2 separate regions of the Homo sapiens genome follow, and region 2 is linked to region 1. Evidence: fine-mapped expression QTL. A gene starts in region 1. The other region holds a variant in brackets. All regions are shown on one strand. Distances are between the middles of the regions.

Evidence for each region.
Region 2: its variant is fine-mapped to the expression of YTHDF3 in whole blood (TOPMed, PIP above 0.99).

Annotation. Positions count from the first base shown.
Region 1 is chr8:63,162,854-63,174,426 of GRCh38, reverse strand. YTHDF3 (YTH N6-methyladenosine RNA binding protein F3) reads right to left here and starts at 5,806. Exons shown (of 5, transcript NM_152758.6): 1 at 5,526-5,806; 2 at 5,016-5,040. The coding sequence starts at 5,549. YTHDF3-DT (YTHDF3 divergent transcript) reads left to right here and starts at 5,985. Exons shown (of 1, transcript NR_102684.1): 1 at 5,985-6,702. RefSeq lists a silencer at 5,204-5,443 and enhancers at 5,524-5,843, 6,044-6,263.
Region 2 is chr8:63,187,134-63,198,706 of GRCh38, reverse strand. YTHDF3 (YTH N6-methyladenosine RNA binding protein F3) reads right to left here. Exons shown (of 5, transcript NM_152758.6): 4 at 10,962-11,573. Among named protein-coding and RNA genes, the nearest start is that of YTHDF3, 24 kb to the right of the region's middle. The variant T/G (reference allele first, on the strand shown) is at 6,502.

The DNA.
Region 1 (11,573 bases):
CTCATCTGATTATTAAATGACAGTGTTCAATAATCTTAAATGTAATCACATTAAATATTACAAGATCCAAATAGGACTAATATGACTTTAGAACCATTTAAACAGAAGTGTTACTAAGCTAATACTTGATGAGGTGGCACTATGTAAATATACTATTCTATACTAGTGAAGATAAAGTTGAAAGTTTCCGATGGATGTCTACAAATTAGAAACAAAAAGAACTCAGTATCTAAAGATTTACTGCTCAAAGGTACAACATCACCAAATTTTATGAAGTTAGGAGGGTGACGGGTTTAAATTGCGTATTCCTCTGTAATATAACATTTTTATTATCCTTAAATTTTCCCATGAGTGTAGAGCACCTAAAATGTAATATTATGAGTTAACAGTGGCTTGGGAGCAAAGATATACAAAATCCCTTAAATCTTTGCCATCCAATGAGTGGCAAAGATCAAAGATATGATGTTACTGTGTAAAGCATTCAAAGTAGACTTCTTACTACACCACACTGCCCCTCAGAGGCCACAAGAAGCAACCTGAAGGTCAACTTGATCCTGGCTCCACTAACATAATTTAACTATGTCTGATAAGGACTGCATCAGAACTAGGATTGAGCTAAATATGCTCCATGGAATTTAAATATGTAATAGCCACTAGAAACCAAAATAAAGAGGGTGCCTTAGGTTACTTCTAGTGCCATTATAAGGCTGGGTTATTCATTTCAGTCCAAGAGATTCTGACATACCTGTTCTCCTCTGACACTGGCTTTACTGCTCCTAAATCAAAGGTAAGTATGCATGGTCTATTACTTCTTGAAAAAAAATTCTTCACTATTACACTCATACATGTTAGTCAGTATTTGAAACAGCTAACAACTTAAAAATTATGACTAACTATCTCTCATATCCACTAGGTTCTCGAAAATCTAGTTCATACAAATACAAAAAGTGCCAGGCCAGGAGCTCAAGACCAGCCTGGGCAACACAGCAAGATCCCACCTTTACGAAAAATGTTTAGAAATTAGCCAGGAGTGGTGGCATGTGCCTATAGTCCTAGTTACTCAGGAGTCTAAGGAGGATCACTTGAGCCAAGGCATTCCAGGTTACACTGAGCTATGATTATGCCACTGCACTCCAGCCTGGGGTACAGAGTGAGACTCTGCCTCTATTTAAAAAAAAAAAAAGGAAAAAGTACTTACTTAAAATTTATCTGTATATATATATAAATATAATCCTGTTATTCTTATTTTTTTTGTTCTATTATTTCTCTTCTAAGAGGCTAGGCCTGAGAACAACCCATATACTATTATAAATACAGTCTACGGTCATTTTTAAATGATGCATAAATGTCTATAAAGTCTTAAAATATAGTACAAAAAGTCAATCTACTTTAAAAAATGTTTAATTAAAAGTACTTCACATATACCGAGAAGCAATTTGCATTAAACTAGCCCTTAAGTTTTGGAAGTGTATCTTAAAGAAAACTATCTTAAAGACTTTCGTTTTTGAATATTTACTTAATGACAAGCTAATGTCTTGGAGTCTGAAAACCATTAAATAGAAATGAAATCCAAGCTAGTTCCATAGTCTGTAAAATTTCTTCAGGGGTAAAAAGAACAGATGACTTACATGATTCTTCGCCTGTTTCCTCTGCTCTATGAAACAGAGTCAAATCAAGATAGAACATGGGCCTTAGGAGCCAGGTGATTCTTTGCTCTGGTCCTGACTACATCAAGTTAGGAAAGTCAACAGATCTGTGCATCATGTTTCCCCACCTACAAAAACAGCGACAATACCATATACCCGCTATCTCCTTACAAGGATGTTGTGAGGATTGATAAAATGAAGCCTAAAATAATGATAGTAAAGTGCTTTGAAATCATTTCTCGGGAGGACGAGGAGAGAATACAACAGAATATTGCCAAAATATAAGGCATTTTCCACTACTTTTCGAAAATTAAAACTTAGCCAAATTTAACCTAATTATTTTAAATTACAGTTGTATAAAACAATGCATACGTCTCTCCGTTGGAAGAGAGCGGAGAGGAGGAAAAAGATAAATCCTGTTCCATGAATTTGCTATTTATAAACTTAGAGGAGAAAGGAGGCAGTAAGGCCTAAGACTGTAAGTATGGCATCTGACACTTCCAACCATAGTACTCCCAAATAAAAGTACTGCACACCTTTATTCCAATAAGCAAAAATTCTACTTAATAAAAAAATAAAATACGAAGTGTTAAATTATGAACCAATAGGCAAATAATTATCCTTAAATTTCTACTATCCTTTGGTACTACTCTTGCCAAGGATAATAAAGAGTTCTGATATTTAACACAGGGACAGACTTAATTAAAAAAGAATTCAAACTTATAAAACAAGTAAACCTTGAATTATTACTTATTCTACAAAAAACATTTTTGCCATATCAAAGACAATTATTTAGAATTCCTTTTGGCTTCTGTAATGAATTAAGTAATTAAGGATATATAGAAAATCAAAGACACTAAAACTAGGTGTTAGGCTAAAGCTGTCAACTAAAGACAATTCAGAAAAGAAACAGGATCTCTGAAATTATAGTAAGTTGACTGAAAAGGATTACGTGTTCAAAACTTTAACTGACACCAACTTCTCAAGGACATACTATTTTTCATAAGCTTGCTAAGTTCAGAATTCAAGATTACTCATATTTAGAATACTGAGGTTGCAGTTCAAGAAAAATAACTTCATGAAAGTAAACAGAATTGTAAAACAATTTTACGAGCTGGGAACAAGCTAAGGCAGAAAAGCTTTTCTCAAATACACACATAGCTACTTATATCAGGTTCACTGGTAGTGTTGCCTTTGCCTTGTAATTCTCCCTGCAGTCATAAAAATACAAGTAACGTATATTTGTTATTTGTGCACTTGTAGCATCTGCCATTTTTAAGAAACTTAAATAATTAGCAATACTTTCAGGCCAGTAGCATTTTTCCCCTCCTGCCAAGGCTCCATGCAAAGGAGTCTTCCTGCACCTTAAAAATAGATTAAGTGAGGAAAGTGAAAAGAAATCCAGCAAATATAATTGCTACTAGAGCAGTGAACTACTGTAATTACAAGAATCCTAACAACATACTATAGGAATTATGGGAATTATGACTAGAGTTATTTTTATTTTATAGAGGGGAGATTCTGACAGACAGGTAAAATGTTTTCAAGCTCACTTGGCAAGTCAGTAGCCAAAGGCAGTATTAGAACTCAGGACTCCAAGGAATCCCAATCCATTATTCTAACCTTAGATGAAATTATTAAACTGAACAACAAGGGGGAAAGAAAGAAAATTTCTTGAGAATAAAGAACTATCAAAATAAACACTTTGTGTATGTGTCTGAATACAACTAACAGAAGCGATACTGATGGATAAAAATTTTTGAAATAACCAAAAAATACTTATTTGCAAACAGTGGATGTATTATGCAGTTTATAGATAACTCAACTCATATCTAATATCAAAGATGCCACCAGTGCCTACCTAAGTGAAATGACCACTCATAAATCAAACTTATTTTACTGACTTACAGTGCTGTAGAGGCTCTATTTTGTTTTAACAAACAAGTACCTCATAGAACTTGTGTACTTACCTTAAAGCGGGTAACATAAAACACTTAGCATTTCAAATAGCTTTGCAAAGTGCCACCTCCCCACAGATCTAGGATAAAATAATTTATGCTAGGCAATAATGACCACAATTTCACAATCTCCAAGTCTACATAGTTCCTAATGGGTAGACTAGCAAAAGAAGAAATTAATGGATCATTCTTTTTAAAATTCACAAATTTTTAAAAACTCATTTAAAATAAATCAATATCCAATTTTTATTTCAGGTTTATGCTTACAACAAAAAAAATTCTAGAAATGAAATTTTAAAAATTAAAATGTCTAAATATTTACATACTGCAAGAAAACATCTTTAATGAAAACAAACAAAATGTTACCTAATATGGTGCCATGTAACTGGTATGTACAAATTCCATAATTCAGAGGAAACTAATCTACATATCCAAAACCTATTAAATTCACCAAATTTGCAATAGCAAATAAATACCCTAACAAGAATTTAAAGGGCACCAAAGACAATCTATATCTAAAAGGCTATTATAGATCTTAATTTCTAACACTGTGTTACTGAAATCAACAGAAAGCATAATTTTAGTGTAATTTCAAGCACTACAAAATGTTATATATAATTTGCTCTGATGTTATTTAATTGGCACTATCCCAAGAAAGCAGTTATTGTTCTATACTTAACTAAATGTCACATGACTAATGTCATAATGTTTCAGTCAGCTGACTGCACTGTTCCATATTAATACAAAACACACTTTTTAAAAAAACACTTTACTTTCAATGGTACTTTTACTAAAGAGAAAATTATAAAATCCTGGAAAAAATGTCACAAACTATTTTCTTCTCAGCCCTTTATAAAATACCAGATAGAGTCACACCTTGCAATCAGAACAATAGAGCAAGATGGCATGCCTACTCAGTTCTAACCTCTCTCATGTTGTTGCCTCATTACAACTGACTTCAATAGAATCAGTGATTAACAGTACAATTTTCATTAATGTGATGGAATACTATGTAGACTTCCATTTTCCAGTGTAATCCAGACATGTCAAACAAAATGTCCACTTTAAGAATATACTTGTCTATATACACATGTAGAAATTTTTTGTGGCATAAGTTACATAACACAGAAAAACTGGAAAACCAAAGAAATACCACCAGGTTCACACCAATACCTGCTTAACTGACAAGGAAACTGTTTCTCGTACTACTTTGGTTTCTATAAAGTGGCTTCAAAGCAACGAACTACCGAAGTTCTGGATAGAACTTGGCTACCTTAGCCATGATGAATATTTTCCCTAATCCTACATTTTTTCCCAAGAGGGAGCAAAAACAAACAAAATACCCTCACAGAGTTTAAAAGTAACATTAAGGCAACATTGAGCAATAAGAAAAAAAAAAATCCAAACTCACCTTTATTTCCTTGCCCTTTAGGTCTCTGTGTTGCAAGACGAAAGATGCGGTAAAGAGGAGAAAAAGGAAGAAAAGAAAAAGTGTGTTAATCAAAGGCATTATCAAAGACAAGTTATTTTAGACTATCCGCGTAGGAGTAAAAACCCACCATATCCTCCACAGCCACCAATTTCCCAACCACCCCCAGCCTTTAAACCTCCCACCCGCCACTCGGAATCCGTCTCCCAGAGCTCGCCCGGTCTCCGCCCCATGTCTGCCGCCCTCAGGATCTGTCCTAAGGCCCCTAAGACCGGTCCTTGCCCCCACCCGCCGCGGCACCGCGCCCGCCCGCCCGCAAGCTACGGGGCCAGGGCGCACGCCCCGGCCCGGGTAGCTACACCGCAGCAACTTGCGCCCGGGGCACCGTTATGGGGCCGGCAGCGGCGGCGACGGGGAGGAGCCGAAGCCCCGCGCGAGGGTGGAGCTCCGGGGCTCGGGCCTTCGCCAAGCCTGGGGCCTCTGCTCCCTCACCTGATCCACGCTAGTGGCTGACATTCTTCACCGCAACCCGAGAGCCGCCGCCGCCGCCGCTGCCTGGGCCTCTCCCCGTGCACTCACAGCAGTTGGCTGTCGCCCTTGGCCGAGTGATTGTTCCAGCCGCCGCCGCTGCCGCCGTTCGCTGAGAACCCAAAATGAGGGCCTCGCGCTCGGGAGTCGGAGGAAGAGGCCCGTCTTTTCCGCTTGCACGCTCCTCTTCCCCCTCTCGCTCTCTGCTTCTCGGGTCCACAATGGCGGACAGACTCCCTAGTCTCACTTCCGCTCCGAGCCTCCCTGACCTTCCGCTCTCCACTCTGACGTCCGCGCTCACCTCGCTCTTCCTCCCCCACCCTCCCGCCGCTGATCTTGGCTCCGCCTCCTCACCGCCACGTCACCGGAGACCGGACCCGCGCTCACGGCCGGTGGGCGCATGCGTCATGGAGGGAGCGCGTCGGGGCGTCAGCGAGCGCCAACTTTCAGCGTCTTTTCTGCGGCTTCCTTCTATCCCGCTCCGAGGCTGCAGGGCCCTGGCAGAGTGGCGTCAGCTGGAAGGCTGGCCAGAGCCGGATTTTGTTGCACTCCGGGCAGGAAGATGGCCGAGGCGGCGGCTGACGGAGATAGTAGTGCCTTGCTGAAGTCACGGCGGCCGGCGGCGCCCTCCTGGAGGCTGACGGGACGGAGGCAGGGAACTTCCCGGTGAGCCAGCCGGGCCTAGCAGGAGCCTTCGGCGGCTGCCCAAAGCCGTGGGGACGGCTGGCTGACTCAGCCGCTCTCTGGACGGAGTTGCTGGGTCCCCACAAGCCTGCCCGTGCAGCTGAAGTGGCAGGTTAGAGTTGTGGTACTCAAACTTAAGTCCAAGCAAACAGGAGGAGCACCGGCGCGGGTTCAGTCTTTCCAAACCCAGTTCAGCCGTAATCTCTGGAGTCAGACTTCGCCGCCCAATTCATGGATTTGTGCTTTTGACTCCGCTCTGATGTTTTTGAATGAATAAAGTTGCCTAGGATACTTAAGTATAGTTGCAGAGCGTCTTTTCGGCCCTGAAAAGAGGGAAAGTTTCCATTGAAAAAGTTCTTTATCACATATTGGCAAACCCAAAGTATGCCAATTTGCAACGTGTTGACATTTTCATTGAAATATCTACAATAAAGGCAAAGATTCCTTGTCTCAGTGATACAGAGTCCATGGAAGGAAATAATTTAAATGACCAAATACTTTCTGTACTTCAAAAACCATCAAATAAGTGATCATTTAGAAAGTAAAATTGTAGAATCATAAGATTAATTTTGTGGTTTACAGTGCAACAGTATCTTAGAAGCACTGAATAATAGAAAAACTTGAGAGGCCACTTTTCATGTAAATCACCAAGAGGCATTTTTAAGTTCTGGTTAGACAGTTTCCCTTGCCCTTCCATTCATTGCCACGGGTCCCAACCTAAGCACCCTTGCATTTCCCAAGACTCCCCCAACCCTTTCTGCTGTTGCTCTCAATGTCTCCCATCCTTCACTCCCAAACAGACCGTTTTAGTTTTAATGAGTTTGCTGGTACATGCTATGAGCCAGGAACTTGAGAGAGAATATACAAGAGGAGGCTTAAATCTTGCAAGCCTTGTCTTTGATCCTTAGTATCATGGCTTTGGAACCCAATCAATTCGAATTTAAATTCTAGTGGAGCAAGAATTAGTGTTATAATCTTGGTAAAGGCACTGAAACTTTCTAAGCTTTAGCTTCCTCATGAGTAAAATTAGGTCCTTCGTGTACAGTTCCTGACACAAAAGTAAGCTTTCAGCAAATTGTGGCTATATACAGGTAATGAATTGTTCCTTCGCTAAAAGATTCCCGGAAATAGTAATCGCTTACATTTATTGAGAACACATTATATGTCATGTTAATTCCCACAGCATCCTTGCAGAAGTGCCATTATAAAAACTGACACAGTGAGGTTAGGAAACACGCCACAAACAACACAGCTAGTCACTATGAGAGCCAGGATTTGAACTCAAGCAGTGTGACTCCCAAGTTCCCACTCTAATAACTACCATATAATACTGCCTAATGACATAATATTATGAGCTTCTATTCTCTTTCATTTTTGCTCAACAAACTTCTTTCTTTATGGCTTTTCTTCCTAGCAATAATACCTACCCTCAGATATAAACCTACTTAATTTAATATTAACAGACTTTTGAAGTACATCTGGGGACTACCTGAAACCATCTCCAATGCCTCCAGGAGTGTATTAGTCCGTTTTCATGCTGCTGATAAAGACATACCCGAGACTGAGAAGAGAAAGAGGGGTTAAATTGTGTTTAAAGTTCCACATGGCTGGGGAGGCCTCAGAATCACGGCAGGAGGCAAAAGCCACTTCTTACATGGAGGGCAGCAGGAGAAAATGAGGAAGAAGCAAAAGTGGGAAACCCCGATAAACCTATCAGATCTCATGAGACTTAATTCACTATAATGAGATTAGCATGGGAAATACCGGTCCCCATGATTCAATTACCTCCCCCTGGGTCCCTCCCACAACACGTGGGAATTCTGGGAGATAAATTCAAGTTGAGATTTGGGTGAGGACATAGCCAAACTATATCATTCTGCCCTGGCCCCTCCAAATCTCATTTCTTACATTTCAAAACCAATCATGCCTTCCCAACAGTACCCCAAAGTCTTAACTCATTTCAGCATTAACCCAAAAGTCTACAGTCCAAAGTCTCATCTGAGACAAGGCAAGTCCCTTTCGCCTATGAGCCTGTAAAATAAAAAGCAAGCCAGCTACTTCGTAGATACAAAGGGGGTACAGATATTGGGTAAATACAGCCATTCCAAATGGGAGAAATTGGCCAAAACAAAGGGGTTACAGGGCCCATGCAAAGGGCACTCAAATTTTAAAGCTCCAAAATGATCCCCTTTGACTCCAGGTCTCACATCCATGTCATGATGATGCAAGAGATGGGTTCCCATGGTCTTGGGCAAGGAGAATGGAGAGGATATTTTGAAAAATGTTGCCACAGAGCCTAGTTTCTAGGTAAAAATGCACTCTTCTAAAGAGCCACTAGGGTGTGTCAGTCTCCTGGAGCACACAGCACAGTGCAAAGCTTGGAAAGGAGAGGGCAGGCTGGATTTAAGGCCCCATTTTTCCCTCAGCCAACTTTGGTGTTTGTGTGTGCGTGTGTTGTTGTTATTTGTTGTTTTGTTGTTTAATTATAGCAACATGTTCTTGCTATGTTGCCCAGGCTGGTCTCCAACTCCTGGGCTCAAGGGATCCTCCCACCTTGGCCTCCCAAAGTGCTGAAATTACAGACAGTGAAGTTCCAGTCTGCACAACTGTAACTTCTGTATGATTACTTGTATCAGTTCAAATTAGGTTCAGCTACAAGTGGTATCAAGTTCAAAATAACAGGAGCCGAAGATAGAAATCTGTTTTTCTCATACAACAGCAGTCTGGATATACTCCAGGACTTGGGTTGCCATTGTATCAGATAATCCAGGCTTCTTCTAGTCTGTTGTTCCACCATCCTGTTATAAATAAAGTTTTGTTGCCACAAAAGAAGTAGCACTCGAATATAGAATTTACTTTTTAATTCTCAGCAAGGCAAGTTACTTCTACAGAAGGGTGCACCCTTACAGATGGAACAACGGTGAGCACAGACTTAGACAAGGGAAGGGAAGGGGTTCTATCCCTGACGCATGTGGCCCCTTCTGCTGTGTTGTTCCCCTATTGGCTAGGGTTAGACCGCACAGGCTAAACTAATTCTGACTGGCTAACTTAAAGAGACTGACAGGGTGAGTGGTTTGGCGGGAAAAATGGTTATGACAGAGCAGGTAATTGGAATGAGTCAGGGTGGAGTAGGTAATCAGAATGAGTCAGGATGGAGCAGGTAATCGAAAAAGGTTGCTTTATGAGGAAGTTAAGTTTAAAAGTAAAAGGCAAAGAATTGAACATACTGACATATTGATTCTTTGAAAAGAAATTTAGAACTCATATCTAACAATCCTCATTATGATACCTCTACCTGTGGCCCATGATGGCTGCTCAACTTCCAGCCATCCTAATCACATTCCCACCAGCAGAAAAACAAGGTTAAGAAAGCACATTGTTCTCCTTTAAGGACATTTTGTAGAAATTGCATTTTTCCCATTTGTATTAGTCTGTTTTTGCATCGCTACAGAGGAATACCCGAGACTGGGAAATTTATAAAGAAAAGAGGTTTCATTGACTTACTGTTCTGCAGGCTATTCAGGAAGCATGGTCCAGCATCTGCTTGGCTTCTGATGAGGCCTCAGAAAGCTTGCAATCATGGCAGAAGGCAAAGGGGGAGCTAGCTTACACATGACGAGAATGGATGCAAGAGTGAGATGGGGGAGGTGACACACACTTTTAAACAACCAGATCTTCTGTGAACTCAGAGAAAGAACTCAATCATCACCAAGGGGATGGTGCTAAACCATTCATGAAGGATCTGCCCCAGTGATCCAAATGCCTCTCCACCCTCAACATTGGGGATTACTTTTTTTTTTTTTTTTTTTGAGATGGAGTCTTGCTCTGTCGCCCAGGCTGGAGTGCAGTGGCACGATCTCGGCTCACTGTAAGCTCCGCCTCCCAGGTTCACACCATTCTCCTGCCTCAGCCTCCCAAGTAGCTGGGACTACAGGATCCTGCCACCACGCCCAGCTAATTTTTCATATTTTTAGTAGAGACGGGGTTTCACCGTGTTAGCCAGGATGGTCTCGATCTCCTGACCTTGTGATCCGCCCGCCTCGGCCTCCCAAAGTGCTGGGATTACAGGCTTGAGCCACCGCACCCGGCTGGGGATTACATTTAATTGTGAAATTTGGAGGGGACAAACATCCAAACTATATTAACATTTCTGGCTACTTTCTACTAACTAAAACATAGTTTCCTACAAGTATTTAAAGTTAAGTGAAAGCTGGAAAATATATTCTGAGTGGCCATGTGTTCAGTTAAAAATGAGGATGTTTATTACTAAGGAAGAGGGGGAGAATGGGTGGGGGGATACTTAGTAATAAACTCTGTGCCTAGTAATTTCCTGGATTTGCTTTGTTAACTAGCAGCACTTAAACTTATCTTTGAATTTTACCAGTGTTTAAGCCAAAATTTATAAGGCTTTCTGTTATCTTTAAGTAACATATATAGTACATGAACGAAGTGTAGAGAATTCAGCTTGAGGATTGATCGATGCACTTTTAAAAGGAGGTATTCTTAAATATCATGCATAAGGTAAAACCACTAATAGCTAAGAAGGACACTGAATAAAGTAAAAAATCAGTCAATCAATCTGCTTTGAAACAGAAAAGCCAAAACTTTTCCATTTATTCTTAAGTTTACTGCAGAGAAATTTACAATGGTAAGAAAAAGGCAGCAGAAAACATCAAATAACCTTAAGATTTGCTTAAAGCAATTTCTTCAAACTGTTTCCTTGGGACTAGCAGCAACATCTCCTAGGAACTTATTCAAATGCAGATTCTCAGGACTCAGCCCTTATTTACAGAATCAGAAGCTCTAGGGTTGGACCAAAAGTCCATGTATTAAAAAAAAAAAAAAAAAAAAGCCGACAGTGGTGGTGGTGTGTCTGGAATTGGTGGGTTCTTGGTCTCACTGTCTTCAAAAATGAAGCCGCGGACCCTCGCAGCGAGTGTTACAGCTCTTAAGGTGGCGCGTCTGGAGTCTGTCCCTTCTGATGTTCAGATGTGTTCGGAGTTTCTTCCTTCTGGTGGGTTCGTGGTCTCACTGGCTCAGGAGCGAAGCGGCAGACCTTCGCGATGAGTGTTACAGCTCTTAAGGCAGCGCGTCTGGAGTTATTCGTTCCTCCCAGTGGGCTCGTGGTCTCACTGGGCTCAGGAGTGAAGCTGCAGATCTTCGCGGTGAGTGTTACAGCTCATAAAAGCAGTGTGGACCCAAACAGTGAGCAGTAGCAAGATTTATTGCAAAGAGCAAAAGAACAAAGCTTCCACAGCGTGGAAGGGGACTCGAGCGGGTTGCCAATGCTGGCTCGGGCAGCCTGCTTTTATTCTCTTATCTGGCCCC
Region 2 (11,573 bases), 24 kb before region 1:
TTTTGAAGTAATTTCTTCTATGTTAACACAAAGTTGAGTACTCTGAGATAGACCTAACATCATCTCATCTTAAAGTTATTCCAAATATGAAAAAAAATGTATCAGGCACTAAAACTTAAATCTTCAGAAATGCCCAACTTGGCCAGGCACGGTGGCTCAAGTCTGTAATCCCAGCACTTTGGAAGGCAGAGGTGGGCAGATGACCTGAGGTCAGGAGTTTGAGACCAGCCTGGCCAACATGGTGAAACCCCATCTCTACTAAAAATACAAAAATTAGCCAGCCATGGTGGCGCACACCTGTAGTCCTGGCTACTCGGGAGGCTGAGGCATGAGAATCGTTTGAATCCCGAAGGTGGAGACTGCAGTGAGCCCAGATTGTGCCACTGCACTCCAGCCTGGGCAACAGAGCAAGGCTCTGGAAAGAAAAGAAAGAGAAGGGAAGGTGGGGGAGTGGGGAGGGAAAAGGAAAGGAAAGGAAAAGAAAAGAAAGAAGAGAAAACAAAGAAATGGCCAACTATGTAACAGCATAAAGAACTAAAATACACACAAAATTCTAGAGATTTTATTATAATTATGCCTTGCTTATTTCTGCATAAACGGCAGGGCTCCATCTCTTTCTGGAGGAACAGGTAATGCCATGATTTGAAAGTTTATCTCAATGTTATAGGCAATTGAAAACTCTTAATTATTCCTATGTGGAATTAAAAAAGCAACTGAACCAAAAATAGTCTTGGATTATGTTTCCTGACTAATGAAGATTTACAAGAATGAAGGAATACAGGGGGATTTAAATGACTCACATTCACTACAACAATGGAAAAATTTCAAAAGAAAGAATCACCTCAATAGTCAAAAGTAGATTCTACTGCTATGCAGACTATTTGAATTTATACTGGACAAATATACTCAGGATTTTTATTAGTTCTTTTTCTTTTCCCTTCTATTATTCAGTTCCTCTGAGGGGTTGCCATTATAAATTTAAATAGCATACTAATACAAAAATTGCTTATCAATTCAGATGCTATCGATTCCCATTGTACATGAGTAATTTACCATATCACATTGAATATGGTATATCCCACTTCTCTTCTCCTCTCCCGTACTACAAGCCACGCTATTTTTAATTATTCCAGTGGCTGTGCTTATGATTTGAAACAATATGCTTAAGGTACCGTTCCTGATATATCTTTAAACAATTATGTTACTGTCAAAAAGATTAGACAATAAGTGATTTAATCTTCCTTAAACTCTTCCCATTCCATCTCATAACATTTTGTTCTAAATATAATTAAATCTTTTATATCCTACTGTCCATTTCTACAAATGAAAAAAACCAATAGACAGCATTTTATATAACTTCAATGATCAAGTAACAGCGATTACACCTATAAAGAAGAAAAAATTCTACACATTCATACTTTGCAAATGGGAAGAGATTCTTCAAAGCATTTCCACTTTTAACAAATGTCTACTTAAAACCTACTGTGTGCTAAGCATTTTTCTAGGTGCTAGGGATTCAGCAGAGAGCAAAGCCTGCTCTTTCAGCGGTTATCTTCCAATATGACAAAGGCTATCTAGAAATTTTATTTTTTTTTAGCTTCCTTCAATTCTCCAAGGTCAGTGGTTCCCAACCAAGGGCCCACACTGTCAGGCGTGAAGGACCATAATGCGAATTAAGTAGGCAGGATGAGATGGCCAAAAGTTCTGATCCTCTATAAACAATGCCAACCTGTGTGACATAAAATGCACATAGGGTCCCTGCTGAGAGATATTTGTTCTAGTATAACCAGGTGCTACGGGTTGTTGTTCTTTCTTGAATTCTTTTTCATTCTGCTGAAACATTTTAAGTATGGTTTCATGAACAGTACGTGGCTAAGCTCTTTTAAGTCTACACTTCTTTTACTCCCCCGACCCTCCAACCCACCTCACTGATATAATTAAACACTCATCTTTACAGGTATAATTCCATAAACCACTCCTCTCCACCCCTCTCAACCCAAAAATAAGATTTTAAATTTGAGTATCCAGGGTTATAGAATTCTGATGACAGTCTGATTCTCCTTTCTTTGTAGGTAATTTGTCTTTTACTCAGGAAGCTTTTAAAGATTTTGTCTTTGTCCTTTTTTATTCTTTTTTTTTTTTTTTAAGACGGAGTCTTGCTCTGTCGCCCAGGATGGAGTGCAGTGGCGCAATCTTGGCTCACTGCAACTTCCGCCTCCTGGTTTCAAGTGATTCTCCTACCTCAGCCTCCCGAGGAGCTGGGATTACAAGTGCCTGTCAGCACGCCTCGCTAATTTTTGTATTTTTAGTAGAGACAGCGTTTCACCATGTTGGCCACGCTGGTCTCAAACTCCTGACCTCAAGTGATCCTCCCGCCTCAGCCTCCGAAAGTGCTGTGATTACAGGCATTGAGCCACCAAGCCCAGCCTTTAATTTTTTTTTTTTTTTTTAAGAGACAGACTTCTGTCGCCCAAGCTGGAGTTCAGTGGCACAATCACGGCTAACTGCAGCCTCAACTTCCCAGGATCAAGCAGTACTCCAAACTCAGCCTCCCAAGTAGCTGGAATACTGGCACTTGCCACCACACTTGGCTAATTTTTAAATTTTTTCTAAAGGCCAGGTGTGGTGATTCATGCCTGTAATCCCAGAACTTTGAGAGGCTGAGGCGGGCAGAGCTCTAAGTTCTAAACCAACCTGGGCGACATGGCAAAATCCTGTCTCTACTAAACAAAGAAAAATTAGATGGGCATGGTGGCGCATGCCTGTAGTCACAGGTACTTGGGAGACTGAGGTGGAAGAATCACCTGAGCCTGGAAAGTCGAGGCTGCAGTGAACTTATGATCACACCACTGCACTCCAGCCTGGGCAATGGGAGTGAGACCCTGACACACACATGCACGCACACACACACACGTAAATACAGGGTCTATGTTGCCCAGGGTCACACACACACACACACACACACACACACACACGTAAATACATGGTCTCACTATGTTGCCCAGGGTAGTCTTCAACTCCTGGGCTCATGTATTCCTCCCATTCCATCTGAAAATATTTATCTGTTTTTGTTAATCATTCCTCCTTTTGATTATTGTTTCCTGTATTCTTTTAACACTCTTTCAGAGAAATACTGGAGCACCTCTCTTTCCATCACATCTTTCCCATTCTGTATTTTCATCTCTATTGCTGCACATTTGAAATTTTTCTCTAATCTGAAGTTTCAGATCATCAACTGGATCTAAAACATGACATTTTATTAATCTGGTTACTCAGATTTTTAAATTCTGATAATTATGTCTCTAATTTCCAATAACACTTTCTGGTTTTCTGTTCTTTTTACACAGGAATCCTTCCTAACAACACAAATCACAATTTTGTTTTGTATTTTTAGTTATCTTCCACACCCGGAATTACAGCTTCTTTTAATGGGGTATTGGTTATTCATTCATCAAGCTTGATTTTACTCAAATATATCAAAATTATGTTTTCAAATATAATACAAATACTAACTAGCATGGATTTCTCCGACAATTTGAAGCTTCACCAATACCCTTCACTCTAAAATAGAGGGCCTGACATTCCAAGTTTTATATAAGCAGACAGGATATGACAGGTTGGCTCCTCCACAGGAAGAGCCTTGTTGGCTGGCAAGGCAAGCCGAGGAACTCCTGTTGCCAAAATAATCAGTCAATAAAAAATATCTAGCAATGACAAGAGATGAAATTAGGTTTTTAAAGTCCTTGTTTGTTGTCATAATCAGGCTCAAGAATTTAAAGAAAAACATGAACATAGGAAGGAAATGAAAGAAAGATACGGTAACTATAGACCTCAATGTAAATTTTAGTTAAAATCTCCCCAAACTTGGGGAAAGCAGGTTAGTATAACCCTTCTAAACTTACTATTCAAAATTGTTGTAACCAAGTTAGATCCTTTACCTGATCCTAGACTGGATTCACTACTAGAAGAAAGCAATAAGCAATTCCATGGATCATCTGACAGAATATTGTGGTTATGCAAGATAATACCCTTATTCTTTCCTATAGGAAAAAAACACTATAGTTTTCTGGGGGAAAGTTATCTCAAGTGGTTCAAAAGAACCATAAAGCAGATGGGGAAGCATGTTAATAATAAGCGAATCTGGATAAAAGGTATGAATGTTTCACATATTCTTATTCCCCCCAAAATTTATTTATTTTTTTTTTACTTTTATTGTTTTTTGAGACAGAGTTTCGCTCTTGTTGCCCAAGCTGGAGTGCAATAGCACGAACTCGCCTCACTGCAACCTCTGCCTACCGGGTTCAAGTGATTCTCCTGCCTCAGTCTCCCGAGTAGATGGGATTACAGGCATGTGCCACCATGCCCGGCTAATTTTTTGTATTTTTAGTAGAAAAGGGGTTTCAACATGTTAGCCAGGCTGATCTCAAACTCCTGATCTCAGGTGATCCTCCTGCATCGGCCTCCCGAAATGCTGGGATTGCAGGCGTGAGCCACCATGCCCGGCCTCTCCCAAAAAGTTTATTTACGACCAAAAAGATGAAGCAAAAGTATAGTTACCAATACTTTCGCATCTAACTACAGTTTATTCTGTTATACTGTCTCAGGCACCAATATATTTGGCCATTTTCCTAATGATGGACATTTGAACTGCTGCCATTTTTTTGGGGAAAAAAAAAAAAAACTATTGATTGCTCCTAACATTCTTATACATGAAAGTTTCTATTAGGTATGTATCCCAGAAAACAACTGCTGAATTATAAGGTAGATTATGTTCAACTTTACAGGAAAATACAAAACTGCTTCTTGAAGTAGATTTATCAATTTAGATTCTCATTTACAACTGTGTAAGAGGTCTTGTTGATCTACAATCTTTCCAATACTTGATACTGTCAAACTTCTTAATTTTGCCAAATGAATGGATATAAAATATTCTCACTGTAGTCCTGACTCGTATTCCCTCATTTTTCGTAAGCCTTTATATTCTTATTAGCTACATGTTTTTCCTCTCATTAAATGCCTATTCACATCTTTGACTATTTTTCTATTGGTTATCTTTTCTTAAATTAATTCACAGAATTTCTATATATATTCTTTTAAAAATATATTCATTTATTTTAGAGATGGGCTCTCATTGTGCTACTCAGGCTGGTCTCAAACTCCTGGGATGAAGCAATCCTTCTGCCTCAGCCTCCTGGGTAGCTGTGAATACAGGCATGCACCACCACACTAGCTTATATACTCTTGATAAAAATCTTTAGTCAGTTAAGTTCAAATTTCTTTTAGTCTTTTAAGAAACATGGCTGCTGCTGCTTTTTTTTTTTTTTTTTTTTTTGGACGGAGTCTAGCTCTGTCACCCAGGCTGGAGTGGAGTGGTGCAATCCTGGCTTACTGCAATCCACCTCCCTGGTTCAACCAATTCTCCTGTCTCAGCCTCCCGAGTAGCTGGGACTACAGGCATGCACCACCATGCCTGGCTAACTTTTGTATTTTTAGTAGAGACAGAGTTTCACCATGTTGGCCAGGCTGGTATCAAACACCTGACCTCAAGCAATCCATGCGCCTGGGCCTCCCTCCCAAAGTGTTGGGATTACACATGTGAGCCACCATGCCCAGCCAGGCCTCTTAAACTTTCTTTAAAGCATCTTTTGATGGACAGATTTTAATCTAATCAAATGTAGCAGTCTTTTGCAATTAGTGCTGCCTCCCCCAAGGTTGAGTTTAAGAAACCCAACCTTTACCCAAGGTTTCCAAGATATTCACTTGGGGATATAGTACATCCACATACCAGAAGCTTTGAGAAATTCCAGCTAAATACATGACAGATAAGGCCATATTAAAACCAGACACTAATAATGACTTACAACTACTTTTATTTAAAAAAAAAAAAAAAGGCATAAGTAGTAAAGAAAATCCTAGTAAAATACCACTAATTTGTTCTTTTCAATGAAGTGAAGGACCTAGAATAGACAGGCAGCACATCCTTCCTTCAGCACTAAAATGACCAAAGTATTTGAAAGCAGTTATACTGGGAAGTCCAAATGCAAGCACAAGCATATCAAAGAGAAAATCAACAAATGAAAATACAAATTCTGCCTACACAAGGCTAAAAGTACCAGGAAGAAAACTGGACAAAAACACATGGTACCCTATATGCTAACCAGCTAACAAGCAAGGAAAACTGGTTTCTAACACAGTGGTTTCAAACTTAAGGGACAGTCAAATACCTAGCACAACCCATTATACTGGCTTTCCCTTTTAAATCTCCACAGGCTGGTCAATCACTTAACTGGTAAAATCAATTTACAGCATGACTCTCCCATCTCCACATTTGCAAAGAGAAAGGTATATGCAACTAGCATCCAGCAATGAAAGAAACGGGGTGGGGAGGGTAAAAGTACCCATTCTGAGACAAATAACTGAACTCAATGATTCTCTTACTGGTTCAATGACTAAACACAAAAAGCCCAAAGACAGTCCTGAAGCCACCACAACCACAAAGGA[T/G]ATTACAAAATTATGAGTCCAGATGAGTGGCTGTCAGGGCTTAGGCATGGGGGAAGCATGGAAAAACAAAAGGCTAGTATATAAGGGAGGGTTTGGGGGATGACGAAACTGTTCTGTATCCTAACTGATAGGGTGGTTACACAAATCTACATATGTTAAAATTCATAGAGCTGTACGCCCCCGCCAAAAGTGAATTTTATTGTATGATTTAAAAATATACATATTTTAAGTATACACAAATTCTTATAGGAGCCTTATTTACATTACCCCCAAAAGGAAAACATCCCAAATATCCTTCAAAGGATGAATGGAATAGACACAATGGTCATCCATCCATGTAATAGAAAACTACCTAGTAATAAAAAGGAACAAAGAATTGAGTTACACAACGACATAGATGAATTGCAAAGATACCATGCTGAGTGAAAGATAAACATCTTAAAAGATCATATAGTACATAATTTCAATTATGACAATATGGAAAATGTCTTATAGGGACAAACAACCAATCAGTGGTTCAGTAATGAGAGGGAGAGAGAGGGCTTGACTATAAACTGGCTGGTCAAGGAAATTTACAATTTTATTATATTTAATTTTTTTTAGAAGAAAAAAGATATAAAGTTTCTAAAAACATTAAGTACAGAAAGCAGACATAAGTTTTAAACACAGTCTTTTGTGCTCAATAAAATCAAGATGAATTCTAGGATCAAGGGATTCCATTAAGAAAACAGAGTTAAGAGGGGGAGCTGAATGTGATAATAGAAGCAAACAAATACTATCAGTGAAGAATGCAAAACCTCACAAATCACAGAAACAGCACAAATAAAATACACTGAAAAATATGTGAGCAGGAAAATTCAAATCCTCCAAATGAAGAGAAAAAGAATAAAGAACCAACAGAACTCAAGGGCAAAGATTCAACATATTTGTTGACATTAATAGAAAAAAGTGGCCTGCAGACAAAGGATTACAGAAAACAATATTCATATTGTACACGTTTTCACATTTACATTCATAATGTAAAAATAAAGAAAAATCTTTTGTGCACACACCAAAAAAACAGCTATTTACAAACAAAAAATGTAGGCTGGCCTCAGAATTTTCCATAATATAAAACCACATAACTGTAAAGCAAGGCTTATACATAGTACTTTAAGTGAAAAGGCTGTTGACTAGAAAGAATTCTATACCCAGCTAAATGGTTGCTTACATATTCTGACCAAAGACATTTTATGGATCTAAAGGCTTGCTAATAAATAATAAGTTAAACAAGGTTCAAAATAGAGCTGTCAAAGGTGGGTTAGGCATTAAAAAGGGTGGCAGCAACGTGACAAAAGAAAAACTTCAGCTGAATTAAATTTAAAGGAGATTAACTGAGCAATGAATGTGATTCACGAATCACAGAGCCAGCCAGAGTAGGCTCTGACATTCAAGCACAGCCCTGTGGTGGAAGTTTTATAGACAGAAAAAGGAAAAGTGATATACAGAAAACGGAAGTGAGATAAACAGCTGGATTGATTACAGGTTGGTATTTGCCTTATTTGAACAGTTGGCTACATTTGATTCAGCCAAAATTTGGTCACTGGCACAAGAGTAGGCTGCGGTCTGTTTATACCTCCACTTGTTATAGTTCGCCATGTACAGAAAAACCTTTAGGCTGGACTTAAAATATGTAAGGAGGCGGCTTTAGGATAAACTTTATTTAACAAAACAATGAAACAATATAAGGGTAATATTAAAGTTTAAATCACTGTTGTGTATATGGCTACAATATATATAATAATACAGCTACAATATATACCTGTCATTAAAAATTTCCTGAAACAACTACATAATATTAACATACCAAATACATTATAACAAAACCAGGATTAAATTTTCAAGTTTGGTAGAAAAAAAAAAAGACACAGAAGGGTGATTATCTCCTCAGTGGTGGGCGAAAGAAAAGTTGGTATTTCCTTGCCATGTATCCTTTGTCCTAAGTAATCTCATCCCACTTCCATGCTATTAACTGTTTAAGAACAAAAGGTCCCCAAATCTGTGACTCGGACATCTAACTGCCTAATCAGAGATTTTGCTGCCTATATTTCTCAAAGGTATCTTAAAATCAGCACAATCTAAAAATGAAGTCTTAACTTGCATCCCACCTTTCATACCTCAAATCATTTCTCCTGATGCGCTACTTGTAATGGCAGTTACAATATGACCACTTTACTTAACTGCTAAACTGAAAGACTCAGTAGCTACTTTTGATCCCATTTCTCTCATTTCTCATATTTAAGTGGGAGAAAACACAATTATATTCAGCAACCCATCTAAAAGGTTCAGCAGAGCCTTAAAGTCATTTGTATTAATTACTCCAAAGCAAAGTTTCCAACAATCCAACACAGCAATCAATAACTAGCACCAGAATCACCTGGAATGTTTATACTTAAAAAGTACACTGCAAGTTCCTTTATCAAATATACCAAGGGATGGGTCTCGAGAATCTGCAATTTCAATAAACACCCCAATTAACACTTATGTGACTTAAGGTTTGGAAACTACTGCTCTAGGGTCATTATTCCAACACCTTCCCTCTGAGGAATGTTGAAGCACTTCCCTGTGCTGCACACAACCACAAAGACAAGATATTCAGCTTCACACACAGAAACAATCACTGATTTTACATAGAGTTAAGTTACCTCTTTATCTTAATTTCTACATAGGAACAAGCATTCCATAAGAACATGCTTTCCATAGTAACAAGCATTATTTACTGGAGGAGCTTCTAACTTTACCCCTACTAAGTTTCAAAAGAAATTTAAATGTATCCCCTATAGAAAAGCCCATCCATTTTCTCTTTCCACCTAAAAATAGGACCCCAATTTTACGTTACAGTTTGGAAGAGAAAACTTTCCCTAGTTGAACTGACTCTTGTGGCCCTGTGATCAAAGTCTAGCCAATATTTGGGGGGCTAATCCCCATATGGGCCACTCAATAGGATATTTTTAAAAAATAAAAATAAAAATATTCTGGCCAATATAATACAAGGATAAACAGCATGTTTTATTTCAGGAATGTCTCCCTCAATCTTACAGAGGGTATATAACAGAATTAGGAATCAAATTCTGCAAAGCCTCTATTTTGTACAAGTGCTTTAAGTATAAAAATTATAAAAATACTTCAAGAGTTTTATGTTTTAAAAACATATTTTGCCAGGCACAGTGGCTCATGCCTGTAATCCCAGCACTTTGGGAGGCCGAGGCGCACGGATCACGAGGTCAGCAGTTCAAGACCAGCCTGGCCAACATGGTGAAACTCGTCTCTATTAAAAATACAAAAATTTGGCAGGCATGGTGGCGTGTGCCTGTAATCCCAGCTACTCGGGAGGCTGAGGCAAGAGAATCACTTGAATCCGGGAGGCGGACGTTGCAGTGAGCCAAGACCACTCCATTGCACTCCAGCCTGGGCGACAGAGAGCGACTCCATCTCACAAAAGAAAAAAAAAAAAAAAAAAAAAAATATATATATATATATATATATATGTAATTTCTTATAAACACAAAATTAGAGTAAAACATTTATTTAAAAGTTGTTTCAGCTGGGTGCAGTGACTCAGGACTGTAATCCCAACATTTTGGGAGGCAGAGGGGTAGGGGCAGATCCTTTGAGCTCAGGAGACCAGCCCGGGCAACATGGTGAAACCCTCTATCTACAATAAATACAAAAATTAGCCAGGCGTGGTGGTGTGTGACCGTAGTCCCAGCTACTCGGGAAGCTGAGGTAGGAGGATCACTTGAGCCCAGCAGATCAAGGCTGCAGTGAGCCATGTTCACGCCAGTACACTCCTGCCGGGACAAGAGAGACCCTGTCTGAAAAAAAATTAAATAATATATAAAATATAAATAAATAAAAACTTGTTTTAAGTGCCAGGTTCAGTGGTACAGGTCTGTAGTCCCAGCTACTTGGGAGTCTAAGGCAGGAGGATTGCTTGGGGCCAGGAACTTGAGGCTATACGCCATAACTGCACCTGTGAATAGCCACTGCACTCCAGCCTGGGCAACACAGCAAGATGTCATCTCAAAAAAAAAGTTGTTTCAAACTCTAAATATATTTTCTCCTATGTTAGTATGATTAATAATATTAATGATTAGAGCCCCTGGTTAGTTCATGAAGTCTGTTTAGTTACAAATGCCAAAATTCATTCAGCTTTGATGATAAACACTGAGGCCCAATGGCCTTTATCATCTAGGGAGTATGAAGAATGAGCAAGAGGCTAACTCAGCGTGAGTTACCCTGGGAAAGGAAAGAAGAAATGGTTCATATAGGACACACATAGATACCTTCAAGGGTGTTTGTAGAGTTGTTTCTTAAGTAGTTGGTTTCCTTCACAGAAAGTTCTTAAACTCAGAATATACCCATCCATGCACCCCACCAGCAATACAAAGACCCCAAACAAAAAATTACTATATTCTTACCCTACGCATGGCTTCCTCCTCTTCTTGACGCTTTTCATAATGTGCAAAGTCATCAAAGATTGAGGTGGTATGCTTGAAAGTAGCAATTATTTTAAGCACTTGCTTAGCTTTTTCTAGGGGTACCTCTTGAGTGTCCCTTGAATTGGTAACCGGTTTGTTGTCATTATTTTCTAAGCGAATATGCCGTAATTGGTTATTGGGAACATCTTTGACAAAGATCCATTTAACTTCAAATTTGCCCTTCCACTTATCCTGAGACCAGACACCAGCATACGCATTATAGTCCACAACAGACTTCATTTCAGCCACTCCACAAAAATGTCCACTGCCATTCACACTGAAGAGTAAATAGAGTGGGCCTTTCCCATTCAGGGAACGGTAAGCTGCATCCAAACGCTTATTACCATGCTCAGTACTACACCAGATAGAGTATTTAATGGAACGATGTATGTCATCCTCAGAGTAGCTTTTAATTATAAACACACGTCCATTCTTCAGATTCCAATCAAAGTCTTTGGGATTATAGTTGTTTATGGCCTTTAGCTTTTCCAGCACGGGATGCACTTCTACACTAGAAGGTGAAGCACTGACAGGTACAACACCTAAACCAAA